Regions from separate parts of the Homo sapiens genome. Here all the other regions are reported to be linked to region 1. The links are microRNA targets in miRTarBase. Many come from high-throughput screens and were not tested one by one. Region 1 holds a microRNA gene; each other region holds the end of a gene's coding sequence. Distances are from middle to middle.
Evidence for each region. Region 1 holds the annotated microRNA hsa-miR-30a-5p (UGUAAACAUCCUCGACUGGAAG, at 2,883-2,904, shown strand). A microRNA usually pairs through its seed, bases 2 to 8, with sites in the 3' UTR of a target mRNA and lowers its output. Matches are read on the target gene's strand: a 7mer-m8 pairs with bases 2 to 8, a 7mer-A1 pairs with bases 2 to 7 and ends in A, and an 8mer does both.

Region 2: miRTarBase lists TMEM87A as a target of hsa-miR-30a-5p. Seed matches in the 3' UTR shown: 8mer at 1,038-1,045.
Region 3: miRTarBase lists SNX3 as a target of hsa-miR-30a-5p. The part of its 3' UTR that is shown has no 7-base or 8-base seed match.
Region 4: miRTarBase lists VWA8 as a target of hsa-miR-30a-5p. The part of its 3' UTR that is shown has no 7-base or 8-base seed match.
Region 5: miRTarBase lists DNAAF5 as a target of hsa-miR-30a-5p. The part of its 3' UTR that is shown has no 7-base or 8-base seed match.

What each region holds. Positions count from the first base shown.
Region 1 is chr6:71,402,432-71,406,498 of GRCh38, reverse strand. It overlaps MIR30A (microRNA 30a), which reads left to right and starts at 2,878; the gene lies at 2,878-2,948. RefSeq lists an enhancer at 3,882-4,067.
Region 2 is chr15:42,208,052-42,212,118 of GRCh38, reverse strand. It overlaps TMEM87A (transmembrane protein 87A), which reads left to right. Exons shown (of 20, transcript NM_015497.5): 20 at 370-1,672. The coding sequence ends at 411. It overlaps VPS39 (VPS39 subunit of HOPS complex), which reads left to right and starts at 3,815. Exons shown (of 25, transcript NM_015289.5): 1 at 3,815-4,038. The coding sequence starts at 3,966. It overlaps VPS39-DT (VPS39 divergent transcript), which reads right to left and starts at 3,718. Exons shown (of 3, transcript XR_932181.3): 1 at 3,435-3,718; 2 at 3,202-3,355.
Region 3 is chr6:108,208,693-108,212,759 of GRCh38, forward strand. It overlaps SNX3 (sorting nexin 3), which reads right to left. Exons shown (of 4, transcript NM_003795.6): 4 at 2,530-3,562. The coding sequence ends at 3,457. Among named protein-coding and RNA genes, the nearest start is that of NR2E1, 45 kb to the left of the region's middle.
Region 4 is chr13:41,564,582-41,568,648 of GRCh38, reverse strand. VWA8 (von Willebrand factor A domain containing 8) reads left to right here. Exons shown (of 45, transcript NM_015058.2): 45 at 344-1,814. The coding sequence ends at 452. MIR5006 (microRNA 5006) reads left to right here and starts at 254; the gene lies at 254-363.
Region 5 is chr7:785,174-789,240 of GRCh38, forward strand. DNAAF5 (dynein axonemal assembly factor 5) reads left to right here. Exons shown (of 13, transcript NM_017802.4): 13 at 344-1,302. The coding sequence ends at 480. Among named protein-coding and RNA genes, the nearest start is that of SUN1, 45 kb to the right of the region's middle.

The DNA.
Region 1 (4,067 bases):
TATGTATGCTTTCTAGAAAAGATATCAAAGACCACCTAGATTTCTTGCCTTTAGGTGTGTTTTACCAAAGGAACAAGACAGAAGATGAATGCCAAAACTATTAATGCAGCTACCCTGGACACTAAGCCCCCAAAGAGATGGAGGATTGGAGGATGTAGAGCCTGGGCACTGGGTCCAGTGCTGACATGGAACATGTTCATTCTTAGAGTTTCACTGCAAACACTCCAAGGATAGAGAGCGAGAAGGTTATGTGGACATGAGAGGAGAAGGGTGGAAGAGGATTGAATGGTTCAGGGTAGCTAAAAAAAATTTTTACACTTTATCTCGGGCTGCTTCTAAACCCTCCACCAGAAAGAATTAATCCTGCAAGCACTTAAAACAAAACTGATGTGAGGAAGATAATAAAACCTGTCCAGGGTACAGACATCCAGATTTGCAATTTAGGGTGGGAAGACTTTAGAGACCTTGTCTAACAGGGCTAAAGAGTATCCTTATGGTTTTAAAGTAGGTACATTGTTTTTTGTAAGCATTTCTAGGGTTATATAAGACAAATCAGAGTCTGATGTATTGAACACAATTGGATCTTATTCTGCCATATTTGTTTTTAATTCACGATTTTTAAATGGATTTACTGGTCATATTTCTCAGGTCATGGCAAGATTTTTTAGTCTTAAACTTATTTAGCTCAGTCCTTCTAGATCAATGGTTCTCTGCCCTGAAGGTGTAGCAAAATTGTTTGATAGCTTTTGCAAAATTTACATACCCAGCAGCCTCCCCATCAGCTGAATAAGAATTGCAATGTGGATGTGGCAGAGGCAATCAGGTATGTGGGGTTAGAAGAAGCTGTCCTGGTCATTCTGTTGCCACCCTCTCACTTGGAGAATTGCTGATCCAATGAATTCCTTAACATAACTTTGAAAACACAGCGTTTTGCTCAGAACTTCATGAATAAACATCAAATTTTCACTAAACAAAATAATTAAAGACCATAAGATCTTAGTTATAATACTTCATAAATGGAAAAGCACTTTATTGCCTGTATGTATGTGGGCTCCTCTTTTAGCAAGATATGAGCTAGGTGAAGTCTATGTGAAAGCTAAAGCAGATTTATTCCAGTCAGATGCCAGACAATTTTACCAGTTTAACTGAGACTCATTATTACTTAAACTACATGCTTGTTTTTTTGGTTACTGAGTAGTATAGGTCCCACTTGGATCAGCAATTCTCAAAGTGAGAGGGTGGCAATAGAATTATTTAAGTAATTATTTGTTATTTGAGGTTGTTTGCTTAGTATTTACTTGTCACTGTTTTACATGTTATTTAATAATTTACAGTTATTTAAAAGTGGTAAGATTCCAAGGCAAGTAGGGGACCTGTCACTTTGAGAAAAATTTATGGTGGTAAAAATATTTTCTTTTTGTAAAGAGTCACTGATATACAATGTCCCCCCAGGGTGTAAGCCTTGGTATTTATCTATTTTAATTAAAGAGTACTCTGCCTGTCTAGTCGTGGCTAACTTAAAAGAAGTGGGTATCTTGGTGAGAAGTTCACAAGGTTGGTAGCCATAGCTGAGTTTGGTGGATTGACTCAAGCTCTAGTCAGCAGTGGTATATGAATGCCAAGTACTAAGAATTTCTGGAATGTAGAATTGCACAGCACTGATAAAGTTTGCTTTGTTCCCCTGTGTGACTTGACCCATTGAGAAAACTGGTTCCCTAGGAAGTTTTAATAGTTCAAAGTCCTTAGTTAATAAAGAAAAAGGCCACAACATAATTCAGCTTGTTTTCACCTGCTGACTCAAAGATTAACTTTTTTAACCTTAATGGGATAGAGTTACCCTTTGCTTTGAGAAAGTAATTTATGGAGTTCTTCATATTTGTTAGTTTCAGTAAACATGATGCTTTTTGTGTGGATTTTATTTTTGTTTCGGGTTTGAGATCACAAACTACTAAGACTTACACAATTTAAGAACCTTACGGTAACTTCATCTAAAAACAAATCTCAGGGAAAGGCACACCCACTTTTCTGTATCAACTTAATCTTTCACTAGATTCAGAATGGTTTTGAATTACTTCAGGAAAGTAGTGACTGATAGAGCTTAACCTTCAGTTTTCCTCATTTATTTTCATAAGAGAATGGGAGTGGAATTCAAAACATTCAAATTTGGAGTTAATGTGCGTCACTGTTGTGAGTGATAGGTTCTGTGTTTTTCCAGTGGGAAACTTTGATCCACATACTGATATATGCCTGTGTTATACCTCGTTATTCTTTTCTGTTTTTCTCCTGATTGTTGCTTACTCTTTCAAAAATCAGCTGACTGTACAAGTCCTCTCTGGGAGCAGACTTTAGAGCAAAAGTGATCTATAAAAGCAGCATGTAAGTCTTTTTTTTTTTTGTCAGAGTTTATAACTTTCCAAGTAGACCTTTTATATTTTCACGGTAGTCTAAGTTCACTCAACTGCAGTATTTGATGTTAAATGTACGCTTTACGCTGTTAAGATAATTTAGTTTCTGTGTTTGGTCACTTTTGCTTAAAGGATTGTAATTACATAATGCATGTTGAAATCATATTAAGTAACCTGGCCACTTGCCTATTTACTTCTTGTGGCTAACAATAATGAATGAAACCATTTATATATGTTGTTTTAGTATATCACAAAATTTTATAGAAACTAGAAGCTCGGTGATGAATAATAGACATCCATGAGCCTTCTTATTTGTTTTGAATTTGAGACATTTTCTAGAATATTGCTGTTTGAATGAGGCTTCAGTACTTTACAGAATCGTTGCCTGCACATCTTGGAAACACTTGCTGGGATTACTTCTTCAGGTTAACCCAACAGAAGGCTAAAGAAGGTATATTGCTGTTGACAGTGAGCGACTGTAAACATCCTCGACTGGAAGCTGTGAAGCCACAGATGGGCTTTCAGTCGGATGTTTGCAGCTGCCTACTGCCTCGGACTTCAAGGGGCTACTTTAGGAGCAATTATCTTGTTTACTAAAACTGAATACCTTGCTATCTCTTTGATACATTTTTACAAAGCTGAATTAAAATGGTATAAATTAAATCACTTTAAAACCATGTCTGTACATTTTTAGAGGGCTTCAGCAGGGCATTGAGGAGGTGCTCTGTGTATGCATAGAATTTGCAATATCAAAAAGAAAGTATTCGTAAGAGAAATGAGGAAATGTGTTACAGTATTTTTATTTTTTTTAAAAGCGTAGTAGGGCAATATTTCCCAGAAAAATCTATGAAGTGATTTGTTTTGTCCTGCCCTTTCTGCAGTTTCAAAATAGGTGTTTTTTAGACCCATTCACAAAAAAAAAATCCATTAATGAAACCACAATTATTTGGGGGAAAAAAGTAAGATGAAGGGTTAGTTATTTTCACATTACTTGGATTAAACCCCTTTTATTTCCTTATAGGCTTAGTGTTTAAGTAATAAAGTAGCAGCTCTCAGCTTAATAAAGTGTCTAAAACAAACAAATACTGATTCAACTAACTCTATTATTTGAAAAACCTATTCTTGTTTCAGATGATTAGAATAGTATTTTAGGAATTTGTGGATACTGTTTCCATTTGGTTGAACTTTTAACTTAGCTTTATGCAATAACTCATATCTCTTAAAAATAATAAATACATCAAATTCTATCCTAAATATATGAAGACAATTTTAAGATTCAGAATCCTGTAGAAGATTTCTGTGATGGACATAATTTCTAATTTTCCTTTTTTGTAAATGCGTATTTTTCTTATGGCGGATATTTTTAATATTATACACTTAAATAGAAATATTTAAGTGTATAAGAGAAATATTTAAGTGTATAATAGAAATATTAAGGATACACTTATATAGAAACTAGACACTTTAAAAAGATATGAAAGTGATATCTTTTGTCCTCTAAAACACAGTATTTTATAAATATATAGTGTTTCCATTAATGTAAAAGAGTTTCTTTTCCCTGTTTAATACCCATTGATGATGATGATAAAGAAGTGATACTAAAACAGTATGATCATACCACTATTTAAAATAGTAGCATTTCTTCTAATACCTGGGATGGAG
Region 2 (4,067 bases), not on the chromosome of region 1:
ACGTCTTTGCCCTCATCCTTCACTGGGTCTTCAAGTGAAATTCCTGAATTAGAGGAGTTACACATTTTTATTAAAGCCTAATCTTATGTAAATATTTGTTTACATAAGATCTTAGCTGACTCTATACATTTCCTTCTGAGTGCTGATTTTCTGTCCAGAAGCCTAGAGCTTTTGATTTAGTTGTTCTTGGGTGAGGTCTGGACATCTGTATGTTCAAAATCTTCACAAATGTTTAGGAACCATTTCTCTAAACATTTAATTAACATAAAGTACTCGTGGAAGATGTTTGCTTGGATAGTCTGTATAGAAGATATTTGGAATATAGATCATTTTAACCTAATATACTTCAACCTTTTTTTTTTTCCCTAGGAACGAATGATCACACACTTTGAAAGGTCCAAAATGGAGTAAGGAATGGGAAGATTTGCAGTTAAAGATGGCTACCATCAGGGAAGAGATCAGCATCTGTGTCAGTCTTCTGTACGGCTCCATGGGATTAAAGGAAGCAATGACATCCTGATCTGTTCCTTGATCTTTGGGCATTGGAGTTGGCGAGAGGTGTCAGAACAAAGAGAACATCTTACTGAAAACAAGTTCATAAGATGAGAAAAATCTACGAGCTTCTTATTTACAACACTGCTGCCCCCTTTCCTCCCAGACTCTGACATGGATGTTCATGCAACTTAAGTGTGTTGTTCCTGAACTTTCTGTAATGTTTCATTTTTTAAATCTGACAAACTAAAAAGTTTAACGTCTTCTAAAAGATTGTCATCAACACCATAATATGTAATCTCCAGGAGCAACTGCCTGTAATTTTTATTTATTTAGGGAGTTACATAGGTGATGGGGGAAATTGTTAACTACCTTTCATTTTCCTGGGAAGTCAAGGTTACATCTTGCAGAGGTTGTTTTGAGAAAAAAGGGCCCTTCTGAGTTAAGGAGCCATAGTTCTATCAATGATCAAAAGAAAAAAAAAAAAAGAGAAACTGTTACAGTATGATTCAGATCATTTAAAAAAGCAAAATCAAGTGCAATTTTGTTTACAAATGGTGTATATTAAAGATTTTTCTATTTCAGATGTACTTTAAAGAGAAATATTAGCTTAACTCTTTTGACATCTGCTATTGTGACACATCCCATTGCTGGCAATGTGGTGCACACTCCGAAACTTTTAACTACTGTTTTGTAAGCCTCCAAGGGTGGCATTGCAGGGTCCTTAGGCAATGTTTTGTTTGCCTTTATGCAGAGAGGTGCTCCAAGTGCTGTGATTGAGCACCGTGCTAGAGGAACTGTAATGCTTCAGAAGTTGTAGCTTATACAAAGGAAACAGGTCCTGCTGGCTTAATTTAAACAGTTATTGCATGAAGTAGCGTGGAGGCCCTGGACTGCTGCTCGTTCTTTAGGATGGACTGTTCTGGTATCTGGTATTGGTTTAGAGACTGTTAATAAGGGACATCACAAGGTGATGGGATTCATTTGAAGCACTCTATTTCTGTTTTAATGGTTTTATCCAATTTTGCCTTCCCAAGATTTTTGTTCTACATAAAAAGTTCATGCCACTTTTTAATATAAAAAAATTTAACAAAATTAATGTATTTTTCTCATTTTTTTCAAACTTTTTCTAAAGACTCTTTCTGTCAAACTCATGAAAAATTTCTTTCTATGGCTTTTATTCTAGATTGTCTTATTTTCTGTTAAAACCAATGACCACATGACCACAATCTTCACTAACTCATACTGCAGTGAAAGTGTTAACCCTTAGGTAGTTTCTCTACAACTCTTTGCTATGGTGATTTTTAAAAAAGTTTCCTAGGAAGTATCTCTGAGGAACAGCAATCTGAAGAACTGACTATATTCTCATGCTAAGTCATTAGCCAAAAGCTGGTGGTATTGTTGCATGCTGCTATTGCATATTAAAACGTAGCAGATGAATAATAGTTGTAATGCAGCAGGATAGTTGGTCAAATTATTTTTTTAGGCTGCTTTGATGTTGACTTGAGACTAGGAAAAAAAAAAGCCCATTGTGTTAAGCGGGAGTGTATAGTTCAAGTTCTATAGCCTGGGCCCTGATAATTCTACTTACAGCTTTCTGTATTACTGGGAATAGATATAGTGTGTCATTTCTTAGGTTCAGAAGAAATTGATAGCTTTGCAGTAATCTGTAAAACAATATAAACCTTAGGGTTTTGGGCCTGAACGAAAAGGTACTAGACCTTCCAGCACAACAGCTGGTAATTCTAAATTTTTAAGAAGGTGATCAGCTTCTATGGTGAAAATCAGCTATAACACAGGATTTGTGTAGCAATTTTCATGTTTTTGACTACTTGAAAGTACTTTTCACTTGATTATCAGAACAGCATTTGGTAAAGATGGGACAAGTATTCCTAATTTACATATGAAGAAACTGATATTGTGTAAAAATAAAATGACCAGGACCAGTTTTTTTGACTTCATATCACAGACTTACCCTTTTTCTTTTACATTTTTGCTTTAAACCCAAATGCTTAATTTTTTGACCTACGATGTTTTCCTAGGGGGAAATGACCAGATATAGATCATTCTTGCAGCCCAAACTTTGTTGTTTTTTAAGTCTTCAAGGGGAATACTAAGGTAACCGCAGACAGTACAGGTCCCAGGTCCTATAGGAGGAAAAGCCATGACACCTTCCTAAAGGAATATTAGGATGTAAGACACAGCTTTGGAAAGTTGAATTGGTAGGAATGTGGTCATCAAATTAAAAGGAGGCTTATTTCACTGACTTCCAAGAGTTAGTGAATCATCTCTTGCCTAAACTCTTGCTACTCAAAATGTGATCCAGGGACCAGCAACATCTGGGAGATTTTTGGTGCTCAACTGAGGGTCTTACTCTGGTCCTACTGAATCAAAAGAGGCATTTTAACAATGTCTCTAGGTGATTTGTATGCACGTTAAATTTGAAAAGCATTGGCCTCAAATGGTGGTTCTCAGGGTAATTTTGCCTCCCAGAGGACATACGGAAAAGAGACATTTTTATACCTCTGTGGGGAAGATAACTGGCATTTGGTGGGTGGAAGTTAGGGATGCTGTTAAACATCTTACATTGTACAGAACATGCCCCCTCCCCCAACAAGAAATTATCCTGTCCTAAATGCCGGTAGTGCTATCGCTGAACAACCCTAACCTAAAATGGTGGTTCTCAAGCTTTTAAGTGCATGGACTCACCTTGGGGTTTATTAAAACATAGGTTGCTGTTCCCTTCGAGTTTCAGATTCAGTAGAACTGGAATGGGCCTGAAACTTTGCATTTCTAACAAGTTCACAGGTGCTGCTGCTACTGCTGTTGTTGCTGGTCTAGAACCACTTTCAGAACCACTGGCCTAGAACAACCATGAAAGCATTAAGGTAAGGTGCTTGTACTAATTGGGATATAATGGTAATACTAAAGCTACCACTTACTGAGAGCTTAGTGGGTGTCAGGTGTTGCTAAGCGCTCACGACACTAGGTCACAGGTATTTACAAAAATTTTGCAGATTAGGAAAGTATGGCATCGAAATATTAAATTTTCTAAATCACAGCTAATTTCCTAATTGGTAGATCTCCGTCTGAGGTCGACGCCAAAGGCCGAGTTTTTAACCATCACGCCCACTGCCTAAAGCAGTTCTAAGATTAAGAGTTTGTTCCTTCTATGGTAAGCCCATGGCTACTCGGGATGGAGTAGCTATGGGTCCAGAGTGACGATGGCAACTCAGCAACAAAACAATTCATTTAGAGTGCACCGGGAGGAAGGGGCGGGACTTCGGCTGCGGAAGAGGCGGGCCTAACTAGCAGGAAGTCCGGGGTTGACGATGGCTGTGTTGTTGAAGGGCCTGTAGCCGGGGGGTTCCTGGCCGGATCCCGGTCTACCCTTAGCCCAGACTCGTTCCGGACCCCAGCCCGGCCCGGAACACTCTGGGCGAGACGGCGGTGGCAACTCTCCCCTTGCCGCCATGCACGACGCTTTCGAGCCAGTGCCGATCCTAGAAAAGCTGCCTCTGCAAATCGACTGTCTGGCTGCCTGGGGTGAGCCGAGGGGCCGCGGGGCCGAGGCG
Region 3 (4,067 bases), 37 Mb from region 1:
CGCCACTGCACTCCAGCCTGGGGAACAGAGTGACACTCCATCTCAAAAAAAAAAAAAAAAAAAAAAAAAAAGTCATAGGCCCTGTCCACAAGAAGGAAGTACACCAAGCCATGGCCTTTAGAATCAAACGTCTTCACAGTTTAAATGCAGTACCATCCTCTCCTGGTTAACCTTGAAAATTCTGCTCAAGCTTTCAAAACCTCAGTCTTCTCATTTGTAAAAATAACATTATCTACTTCATAGGGAAGTTCTGTGACAGAGATCACAGTGGAATTATTACAAACTTATTCTCTCTATCCCAAAACAGTTTTAACTCCTTTCCTAGCCTAAACACTGGCATATTGTTAGTAATAGCAGCTGGCACCCACTGAGTATTAATCTATATGCGAGGGAGTGGGCTAAACTCTGTCCATCCATACCTCAAACACATTTTATCTGTAAAGGCCTTAGAGGCCACAGCCTTATTCTTTCATTGGCCATATTCGCCCCACTCATGTAACCAAAAAAGGCAAAGCAAGCAGAGGCAACAGGACGGAATTTTAATCTAGGATGGCCTCCTAGCAAAGAGGGCTGAGTGGAAAAACCATGGGATGTATAAAAAGGAGATGCTCCTCCTCCCCTAACACCCCTTCCCCAAAGTCATAATCACTACCAGGGGTCATGATGTTAGAACCTCTGGGTAGGAAACCAAATACCAGATAAACCTATTCTGGAACTGCCATGGCAAATGAGTAAGAGTGGTACCATTTGCTACTACTACTATTATGACTACCACTGCCAACTGATAACTATTATTATGCTTTTATATGTTCCGACACTGTCCTATGAATTTTACATGTAATCCTCGATGTAAGTTATAAAGTTACCACTGATATTGACCCTTTATAACTGGCAGGAGTTGAGACAAGGCAATTAAATACTTGAATAGTGGACACAGAGCCTGAGATTCCTTAGAATTATCCATCTATTGCTTTGTAACTCACTGCCAAATTAATTTTTTTTTAGGAAGATTCTTAAGGGATTCTGGAACCCCCTCCTATGTAGTTAGAATTAAGAGCACCTGCATTTTTACTTCAGCGGGTTAAAGGCATAGTTTCACTATAAACCATGGTCTCAATTTCCTACAAGATAACACTGAAAAGCACCTTCCTCCATTAGGCAAAAACACGTTACCTGGAATAAACTTTTCACCTACTTTAAAACCCTTGACTTTTCAAGAGCATGCCTGCCCTTAGGAAATTGTGGTAGAGGTTAAAAGCGGGCAGGCTAGTACAAGCCATCCTAAACCACGCTATTCCTTGTCTGTAAATGATCAAAATCAAGACTCCACGGTGAGTGGAAACCTTGACACTACTAACATTTTTCTGCTGTGGGAGGCTGGCTTGTTCATTTTAAGAGGTTTAGCAGCATCTCTGACATCCACCTGTTAGAGTCCAGTAACATTCCCTAGTTGAGACAACCAAAAATATCTTCAGACATTGCCAAACGTCCCCTGGGGGACAAAATCATCCCTGGTTGAGAACCACTGCTTTATTTTAATGTTTAACAGAAAAAAAAATTTTCTTTTGAGACTGGGTCTCTCACTCTTGCCTAGGCTAGAATTAAGTGGCATGATCTTGGCTCACTGCAACCTCAACTTCCTGGGCTCAAGATACACTTCCACCTAGCCACCCAAGTAGCTGGGACTACAGGCACACACCACCATGCCCAGCTAATTTTTAAACTTTTTGTAGAGACATAGTCTCACTATGTTACCCAGGTTGGTCTCAGAACTCCGGGCCTCAAGCAATCCCCCTGCCTTGGCCTCCCAAAGTGCTGGCACTACAGGTGAGAGCCACTGTGCCTTGCCGAGAACCACTGCTTTAAAGAATTATTTGGTTTTGCAGAGCTACCATTATTCTGTTCTGCATACCCAAAACTGACAGCCTCTGACTTTACTTCTCTAGTTCACTGAAATAAAATTTACATGTTGTTTAGCTTTGTACCTTCTTACAGTAATTGAAACATCCAGTATTAGGGAACTGTGAAATACTGTTTGAGCAACAAAAGGCCTTATGGGGCAACTCTGACTTCTTCCTATGACTTCTATGTGCTTGGTGGACATCCTAGTTTGGCCAAGACCCAAGCTTGTTTCCTTTTAAATGGACTGATCCATCTTCAGAGGAGACGCATCTGCTGTAGGAGGACAAAATTTCTTTACTTTGGGATTTAACTCCAAGTCACAATGGGTCCCCAAACCACCGCAAGTTGTACAAACTAGAGACCACATTCTGGCTGAAAGGTCTGAACACAACACAAGTTAGGCAGCAAGAAGTCATGTGTTTTCTGGTATCTTATCATTTTTGCAGGTCAGGCTAGAAGACTGTGCCCTTCTCTTAAAGAGGATAAAGTGTGCTACTATCCCAAACCAAATTAAAGAGAAAGCACAAACCTGCTGACTAAGAAGAGTTATTACACCCTTGCTAAGTTTGTTTAAACAAGTCACTCAGTTGACTAGGAAAAAACTTCTGAAAAATAGGAGAAATGGTATTTTATCTTTGAAAGTCCTTTTAATAAATGAGATTATAAAGCAGTTTTCAAATACACAAAGTGCTTCAAAATGATTCAATAAGCCTTAAGCAATACATTTTTTAGTATATCACTTTTGTTGTTGTTAAAAATACCCCATTCAATGGATGGAAGTATATTTGATATCACCACTGTTTAAAGGGAATGGAGTTACAGGAATGAGAAGTATATAATTAGTAAATAATCCCTCTCAACAAGTGACTTAAGTAGTCACTCATAGAGAGCAAAAAAAGCTGGAGGCAACACAATCAGTGCATATCAGAAATGCATTTTAATTTTTATTTGAAAACAACTTAAATTTTTAGACAAATGATTTTAGTATATAAATTTGCTTTTGTTTTTATACAGAATATAAAGATTTCCCTCATTAATCTTCCATGTGAAGGGTATTACAAGCCTGGAGGAAGATACTTTCTGCACACAAGTATGTATCTTATGTGTGCAGTATTGGAAACCAATGGTGTAGTGCTCCTACACATAAATGGGGTCAAGTGACATCACAAATTAAAAGGGGGAAAGAGAAATATTCTAGTTAATCAGATGCAAGAAGCAAACAAGACGCAAAAACTGTGCAAATAAGACCAAGCCAGTAACTTTAGTTACGACACTGCAGATTACACTGGAATAACAGGTTTGTGAGGCTATAGTGTGCACCACATTAAAACAGCAAGAAAGAGCTATTTATATAGAAAGGCTGGAATGAGGGATTTTTACTAAAGCAAATTAACTTCTTGTCAACTGCCAAAACAAAACAAAACTGAGCATATGAGTGTTAGTATACTGAAGGCATGTTATACCAGTTTCTGTGCAGCATGCTAAAAGTTAGAACTTCTTCACTGGTGCTTATCAATCATTAATAGTCACGTTTTTGCCCCTTCTTGCCAAATTTCAGGCATGTCTTATTTTAGATGGAGTATAGCTTTTATCTATTATTTCATCTTGTAAAAACATGTGAAGACAACGTTCGTTCTGTGCCAGAGGATGACCAGCGACCCTGAGAATAAAAAATATAAATTTAGTCCAATATTTTATACAAGGTGGGGGAGTTCAAAACACATATTTTAAAGTTGAGAAGCATGTATAATTTTTTTTTTTTTGAGATGGAGTCTTGCTCTGTTGCACAGGCTGGAGTGCAGTGGCTGATCTTGGCTCATGGCAACCTCCGTCTCCTGGGTTCAAGTGATTTCGTGCCTCAGCCCCCTGAGTAGCTGGGACTACAGGCGTGTGCCATCATGCCCAGCTAATTTTTATATTTTTACTAGAGACGGGGTTTCACCATGTTGGCCAGGCTAGTCTCAAATCCCTGACCTCAAGTGATCTGCTCACCTCAGCCTCCCAAAGTGCTGGGATTACAGGCGTGAGCCACTGCGCCCGGCTCAGAATCATGTACAGTTTACCAATAAGTATTATTCTGGACTGTCCATAAAGCTATGCACTATCAACTAATGGTATATGTTCTTTTGTTTGGTTCACAACTCTAATTAAGAAAACATTAATCA
Region 4 (4,067 bases), not on the chromosome of region 1:
ATTCCATATGAATCCCTATGGCTCTGTTATACCAAAAGAATATGAAATACCAAGAAATGGCAGTAAAGAAAGGAAGAAAATTTTTTCTTTTCAAATTCACTGACTTTCTCACTGAAAAGACCTTTCTTTCAGTTCCCTGCTTTTGCTGTGTCTTTCCTTGTTGCTCTTCCAAGCCTTTCATTGTTTAATGACGACTAATTCAATGGTAGGCAGAGAGCAAGGTATTAGAAAGTAAAAACTTCCTTTCCTAAGAAACCATTAGGGGGCTGTGGTTTGCCAGGGCAGGAGGTGGAAGGGAGCCCCATTTACAGTGGTAACTTCCTTTCCCTTTCCATCCTGGCAGGCTTCAGAGAACTTTACCAGCTGGTCGGTCTTTCGTTGCCATGGATACCAAGGATATCCCTCAGATTTTACAACAGATCTTCACCTCCACCATGTTGTCGAGTGTCTAAGAAGTGCCCTTCATCACCCTGATGACACCAGGATTTGAAATAAGACAGGAATAAAGAGTATTCTGAAAAAAAGAAGATATGGATGAAGTGAACCCATGCAGTGACTGGATGATTCCGGCATTCCTGGGTCTTCCTACACTTGCTCCGTAATGAGAATTCAGAGAAGCAGCCAGAAGGAGACTTAAACATGGAAAGATACTCCACTGATGAGTTTAGAAGTGATTAGGGCAAGCTAGTTGACCTGCACTTTATCAAAGGTTGGGGTTAAAGGAAGGTGGTTTTGAGAACTATGTGTTTGGTCTATTTCCAAAAACCTGAGGGGGAGAAAATACTTTGCTTTTGCCTTAACACATCATCTGGTCACGTTAGAAAAGTGACCCCATCAAACTGAGCCTTTGATGTCACATTCTGACACAAGATGCAAGTCTGTGCAAAACCCACCAAAATGCTCCTATCCAACAATTATTTTTATTTTCTCCCTGCTCTGTATTGACCAGAAAACAATGATTTTATAATATTTAACCCACCAAAAAGTCCCTCCAACAGCAATATCTTATGAAAGTCTGGCTGTTCTCAATAATTTCATTTTCTTGGCCAAAGCCAAAAGGAATCAAAAAATCCTTGGAGTGCTTGCCTTTCCACGTGACTTTTAAAAGGCTCTTAAAGAGCAAATGTCCTCTTCTCCTTGCTGCTAGAGTGGGAGGAGAAAGATGTCTTGCCTTAAAAGTTTACTGTTTCTTCTGTTCTTCTAGCATCTCTCAAAAAATTCACAGTACTCCATTTTGGGGTCCAAACTGTAATGCTCAAAATAATAAATGCTTACACGAAAATTATTTATTGAGAATATTCATATAAAAATTACCTAAAGCAAAGTAAAAAAAGTAAAATCAAGGTGGTATATTTGAAGTGAATGGTGATTGGAAATTTTTAGCTGTAACAAAAAGAAAGAAAACAACTTTTTTTAAAGCCTCATTCTCTTTTCTTTCAAAATGTACCTTATTCCCACACACTCTTGGGCTGACCTTTATTTTATCAATAAGCTCAATATTACTTTGTTTAAAATAAGATGCTTCAGCAAAAGTCATTCTCTCTTTAACCATATAATTTAAAAACTCCTCTTCACGATTGATAGCAAAATCAGAAACGTTAGGGCACCAGTGAGTTGAAAAAACTGGTCTTAAGTTGGAAAAACTATTATTAATAATATTATCCTATCCATCCATATCTATTGAAATTGTACAGGTCCATAATTTCATTTTAATTAATTATAGGAAAGAAGAAAAGATAATACCCATTTGTTCTATCACCCCTCTCCCTATCATTAACTATCAAATAAATAAATAAAAGCAATCTGATTTCCAACGTGGTACTACCTGGTGAGTTTGCATGGCTTTCTTGTTCCTCTAGTGAGACACCTGCTCCATGTATTGAACCATTCAATGATGCAAACAATTTCAATCCAACATGTATCTTTAAAAATGTAATTGCATTCCAACGGTCGCCACAACAGCAGCTAGCATTTACTGATGATTTACTGTGAACCAGGTATATGCTAAGTGATTGCATACATTATTTCATTCATCCTTACAACAATGCATGTAACAGGGGTATTTTTTACCTTATTTTGCAGATGATAAAGAAAGTGAGGCTCAGAGAATTTAAGTCACTTTCCCAAGATTCCTGTTACTAGACCTTTCACTAACTATTCATGGTACCATTAACATCCTCATTTTACAAGTAAAGAAACTGAGGCTTAGAGAAGTTCAAGAAAATAGGCCACACTCACAGCCAGGCAGGGGCAAAGCTGGGCCTCCAGCCTCCAGGCCCCTTAATGCCTTTGCGTCCCTCGCAGTCCCACGCCCCTTGCTGCATCTCACAAATGTACATGTCACACTCCTGCTGCCTTTTTCTCTTCCTTCCAGTGTGACTTCTCTTCTTGTACCCTGTCCACATTCACAGGGCTCTCTTCCTCTCCCTTTCCTCAGAAAGTCTATCTATCTGCCCATATTCGAGCACTCAGAGGTGTGGGGACCGAGGACATGGGACACTGTCGGGGGAACACTTCTAACTGCTGCTTCCTTGCTAGGCACAGCAGCAATCTGAGGAAGTGCCCTTCCAAGTGGCAGCTTAACCCCAAGGGATGCCCCTTAGCTAGCGGGTCACTGCCCCTGAAAGCCTTTGGAAGTGGAATCCAAGGGAGATTAAAGGAACAGCCAACCTTTAGCAAATCCTCCCCATGCGTAACTACCTGAGGAGGCAGAAGCCATTTTTTTTGACATGGAAAGAATGTTCTCAAGTAATTTAATTTACCTTTCTCGACCAGCCAGACATCCTCTGCAATTGCTATTTTTAAAAAAGCACAGTACTCCTGGCTTTTCTGATTTGTGAAGGGGAAGGATGATGGGGAAAGGGAATTGAGACTGAGAAGACGAAGAGCTTATTTTCACTTCTTGCAATACCTAAGAAGTATGTGCATTTATTATTAAATGTACTTAATTATAGACCACTCCAAGCTGTTCCCAGGCCCTTCTTAGGGCCAAGACATTATAATAAATGCATTGTGTGCCTCGGGGGGTTCCACTGAAAGGCATCTAACCCCTGTCTCCTTAGTAAGCACATGTAATGCTGAGAAGGTTCATTGTTACCCATGAGCAGCCAGGAGGAATGAATGCCGTGAATAGCTGCAGTATATGATGCATATTCCCCCTAGAATCCTCTGTGTGCCCGACAAAATGACCTCATCACAGATGGGGAGGCTCAGCACAGCCATAAGAAGTGGATCAGAGGGGGAGTACTTGAAGGGAACCCATCAGATGTTTGGAATGAATCACTTAATTCTTTATACTACACTCTTTCCTGTGAACTGTCAGAGGAGAAGAAATCCATCAATGCCAGCAAGATTTTCTCTAAACAAACTCCTGGGCTTTGAAAGCCGTTTGGAAGTGGTTTTCAGTAGACAGCATTGTCATTGTTCCTGAAAGACCAACCTTGGAGGCTTCCAGCCTCCCTCCACCTGGCTCCTTCTTGTGCCTGTCAGATCAGGCAAAATTAAGTTTCTAAGTGAATAAAGCTGGGAGAAACAGACAAGGGGAACAACAGGAATAGTGGCTTATTTGCTGCATTTCGATTTGTTTCCAATGACCACAATTGTAAGATACTCCACAAATTCTAAGCCAGCCTCTCCTGCCTGGACAACTTGTTTCTGGAATTGCATCTAAGGAATAATCAAATGTCGACTTATATTTAATACATCGTACATAGCTTTTTAATCTTATTAAGAAACAAAATGTCCACTTTTATCATTTTTTTCCAACCAGTAACATAAATGGCTTTGAAAAATACTTAAGTCCAATTTCTGGTCAGGATTATATCATAAGGTTCTTTTTCCTTTTTCTTTTTTTTTTTTTTTTTTTGAGATAGGGCCTTGCTCTGTCACTCAGGCTGGAATGCAGTGGCACAATCATAGCTCACTGAAGCCTCAACCTCGTGGGGTCAAGAGATCTTCCTGCCTTAACCTCCTGAGTAGGTGGAACTACTGGTTCATGCCACCATGCCCAGCTAATTTTTTTTTTTTTTTTTTTTGGTAGGGACGGGGTTTCACCATGTTGCTGAGGC
Region 5 (4,067 bases), not on the chromosome of region 1:
ACACCCATCCAGCAGGATCAGGTCATTCGTATCCACATTGTGACTACTGGGTCCCCATCCAGCAGCGTCAGGTCATTCGTCCCCAGATTGTGAGTCGGGTCACTCGTATCCACATTGTGACTACTGTGTCCCCATCCAGCAGCGTCAGGTCATTCGTCCCCACATTGTGAGTCGGATCACTCGTATCCGCATTGTGACTACTGTATGTCCACCCAGCAGCGTCAGGTTATTTGCAGATGCTTTTACAGATGCTTGAACTTCACTACAAAGCCAATTTGCACGAGAGGTAAGATTGGTTTCATGTTTGTTTCTGGCATGTTCAAGGTGTTTTTCTGTTTTACAGAGGTCCTCAAAGAGGGCAGCGGGCTGTTCCCAGATCTCCTGGTGAGGGAGACGGAGGCCGTCATCCACAAGCACCGCTCGGCCACCTACTGCGAGCAGCTCCTGCAGCATGTGCAGGCCGTGCCAGCCACACAGTGACCACGCTGGTTTCAGCCACGGCACACCCTTGTCCCCACCTGAGCCAGAGTTTGTGGCCTTTAAATCTCATAAACAAGGCACCTCTGTGCCAGCAGTGAGACTGTGACAGCAAGAATGTACTCCTCAGGACACCTGCCCACTCTTTCCCTGGAATAACAGCCTCTGAGTGGATTCTGCATGTTATGTGATTTGTTCTGTTCATCGAGAGGGCTCCCAAACATCTGCAGCTGATTTGAAATTAAAAGTAAGTCGCAGCCGCTCCTCCCGCAGCCACTTCAGCAGCATCTTAGATTTTAAGCCTCACGTGCGCAGCTGGTTCATGAACTATTGGCTGCATCCTGCTTAGGTGCCCACCAAGAAGGTTTTTACCTACTTAACAAAAAAGAAAGAAGCCAAAGTGATTAGAAAGAAATGAAATCTCTTTTTGGGTTCTGTCTACTGAAATTTAATATCTCAGTGAACAGACTAAAAGGAATTTAGAATCCTAACAACTTATCAGATTTCTCCTGTTTTAAATATACTGGGACTTTAAAGGTTATATGTCCGGTCACCGTATGTTTTAAGTCGGTGTTAATGCTAACAGTGTTGAAAACAATATTTCATGAGATCTAATTGTGGTTGCCCCTATAGGTAGCAGGAAAGTAAAGTTGCATTTCCCTCTCGCACATTCTACACCCAAGTGCCTAAAAGATCTCATTGTAAGTGGGTAGTGTTACCGGAAGCCATTGTGTTCACACGGGGGAAATGCCGTATATATTTTTCAACAAATATTAACGTTTATACTTTCATGTTTGAAAATTTAATTAAAAATGTTTGTTTTAATGATTGTGTATGCCTGACTTTGTGAGTTGGTAACTAACCGACATGTCAGGCAGGGATCCCAGCCTCTAGAATTCCAGAGTTCCTCTGTGGGGTGTCGTAGTGCCCGCTCTGGACACCAGGGGGCAGGAGCTCCCAACACGTTCGGGGAACACCCCTGGTAAGGAGGGCCCCATAGGACTCACCTTGAGAGGGGCTGGGGCATCAGGGTGAGGGCAGGCCAGCCTTGGGGGGGTGTCAGGGTTGGGGGAGGTCAGCCTTGGGGGGCATCATCAGGGTGAGGGCAGGCCAGCGTTGGGAGGGGTGTCATGGTTGGGGAGGTCAGCCTTGGGGGGTGTCAGGGTCGGGTGAGGTCAGCCTTGGGGGGCATCAGGGTGAGGGCAGGCCAGCCTTGGGGGTGTCTGGGTAGGGGGAGGTCAGCCTGGTTGGCAGGTGGGGTGTCCAGGTGCAGAGAGGTCAATCTGGATGGGGGTTGGTTTCAGAGTTGGGGGACGTCAACCTTGATGGAGGGTGTTTTGTCTGGGTGGGGGAAGGTCACCTTTGGGATTGTCTGGGTGGGGGAGGTCAGCCTTGGGGGAGGTCAGCCTTGGGGGTGGCTGGGGTGTCCAGGTTGTGGGAGGTCAGCCTGGGGGGGACGCCGGGGTGGAGAGGTCAGCCTTGGGGGGTGTCTGGGTTGAGGGAGGTGAACCTCGGAGGGTGTCAGGGTTGGGTGAGGTCAGCCTTGGGGGGTATCTGGTTTGGGGGAGGTCAGCCTTGTGGTGTCTGGGTTGGGGGAGGTCAGCCTTGGGGGGTGTCTGGGTTGGGGGAGGTCAGCCTTGGGGGGTGTCTGGGTTGGGGGAGGTCAGCCTTGGGGGGTGTCTGAGTTGGGGGAGGTCACTCTTGGGGGGAGTCAGGGTGGGAGGAGGTCACTCTTGGGGGGTGTCTGGGTTAGGGGAGGTCACCCCTGGGGGGTGTCAGGGTTGGGGGAGTTCAGCCTTGGGGATGGCTGGAGTGTCCGGATTGGGAGGTCAGCATGTATAGCTGAGCCTGCCCCATGGACTCACATCCCCTGCCCTAGACACCCTCGCCACCCTCTGGTCCCCTTCAGAGTTGCACCGTCATGGCTGTTCCCTGCGCCAGCTTCTGTAACTCGTGGCCACAGGGATTTCGGGGGCCCTCAGGGGTGGTCTTCCACCTCTTCCTTGTGTGCCCTTTGACCTCTGTGGCTTCTGCCACATCCTTGAAGAGCCCTCAAGAGCCCCTGGGTCGGTGGTCCTTGGTGGCGATGGAGCCAGTGGCAGCAGCCTCACCTGGAAGCTTGTTAGAAAGGCACATTGCAGGGCCTCAGGCCAGACCTACTGAGGCAGAGACAGGTGGGCCGCAGTCAGCCCTGCAGGTGATTCTGAGGCTGCGGACTGGGAGGACCCCCACCTGTGCACCAAGCAGTTCCCATCCAGCTCCCATCCAGCACGAGGCTCCGTCGTCTGTCTCTGTCACAAGACCCAGAAATGAATGGCAGGGAGCTTGCCCGAGAGGACACACGTGTGAGGGGCCCCTCGACCCCTCGGACGCAAGTGCACCAACCCCTGGGCCGTCCCTCGCCCTGCATGCTGGGGCCACAGCATGGGAAGAGACATCAGCGCTGCCGCTCCGTCTCTACACATCTGTAAAGGGAGCTCCCAGGGACCTGGCACGTCCACAGGTGCGTGTGTTCAGAGAAAGACGGAAACCCAGCCTACAAGGGTTCACAGACACCCAAGAGGCATTACGTCCCTCTCCACTTAATTCTTTGAAATGTTGATAGGCCGGGTGTGGTGGTTCATGCCTGTAAAATCCAGCACTTTGGGATGCTGAGTGGAGAGGATCACTTGAGCCCAGGAGTTCGAGACCAGCCTGGGGAACAGAGGGAGACCCCATCTCTACCAAAAATTTTTAAAATGAGCCGGGCGTGTTGGTGGCCCATGCCTGTAATCCCAGCACTTTGGGAGGCCAAGGCGGGCAGATCTCTTGAGGCCAGGAATTCAAGACCAGCCTGGACAGCATTGGGAAACCCCGTCTCTACAAAAAAATTTTAAAAATGAGTGGGCATGGTGGCGCACACCTGCAGTCTGAGCTACTCAGGAGTCTGAGATGGAAGAATCACCCGAGCCTGAGAAATCGAAGCTGCAGTTACCCAAGATTGCACTCACTTTTTTTAAACAAGTGAGACCTTGTTTAAAAAAAAAATTTTGTAAATCATAAATGAGTGCATTAATACAACATGTACTTTTTTTGTCTTGCCTCTTTCACTCATCAGTTTTGATGTCCATCTATGTTGGGGTGTCCATCAATAGTTCATTCCTTTTTGCTGCTGCGTAATATTCCATTCTATAGATAAGCCACAGTGTGTTCACCCACTCAGCTTTTGACGTGTGTTTGAGGTCTTTCCAGGTTTTGGCTATTACAAATAAAGCTTCTTCCAACATTTGTGTACATGTCTTTGTATGGATAGGTACTTTCATTTCTCTTGGATAAACATCTAGTAGAATGGCAGTCATGGTGGATGTATACTAAATTTTTAAGAAACTACCATTCTATTTTCCAGAGTGGCGGGACCATTTCCACCAGCCCTGTGCAAGAATTCCAGTTCCTCCCATATTTGCCAACACTAGCTAATCAGTTTTTAATTTTAGCCATTTTAATAGGTACATAGTTGTATCTCATTATGGTTTTAGTTTGCATTTCCCTAATGTCTAATGAGGCTGAGCATCTTTTCATATGCTTATTTGCCATCTGTGTATCTTTTTTGG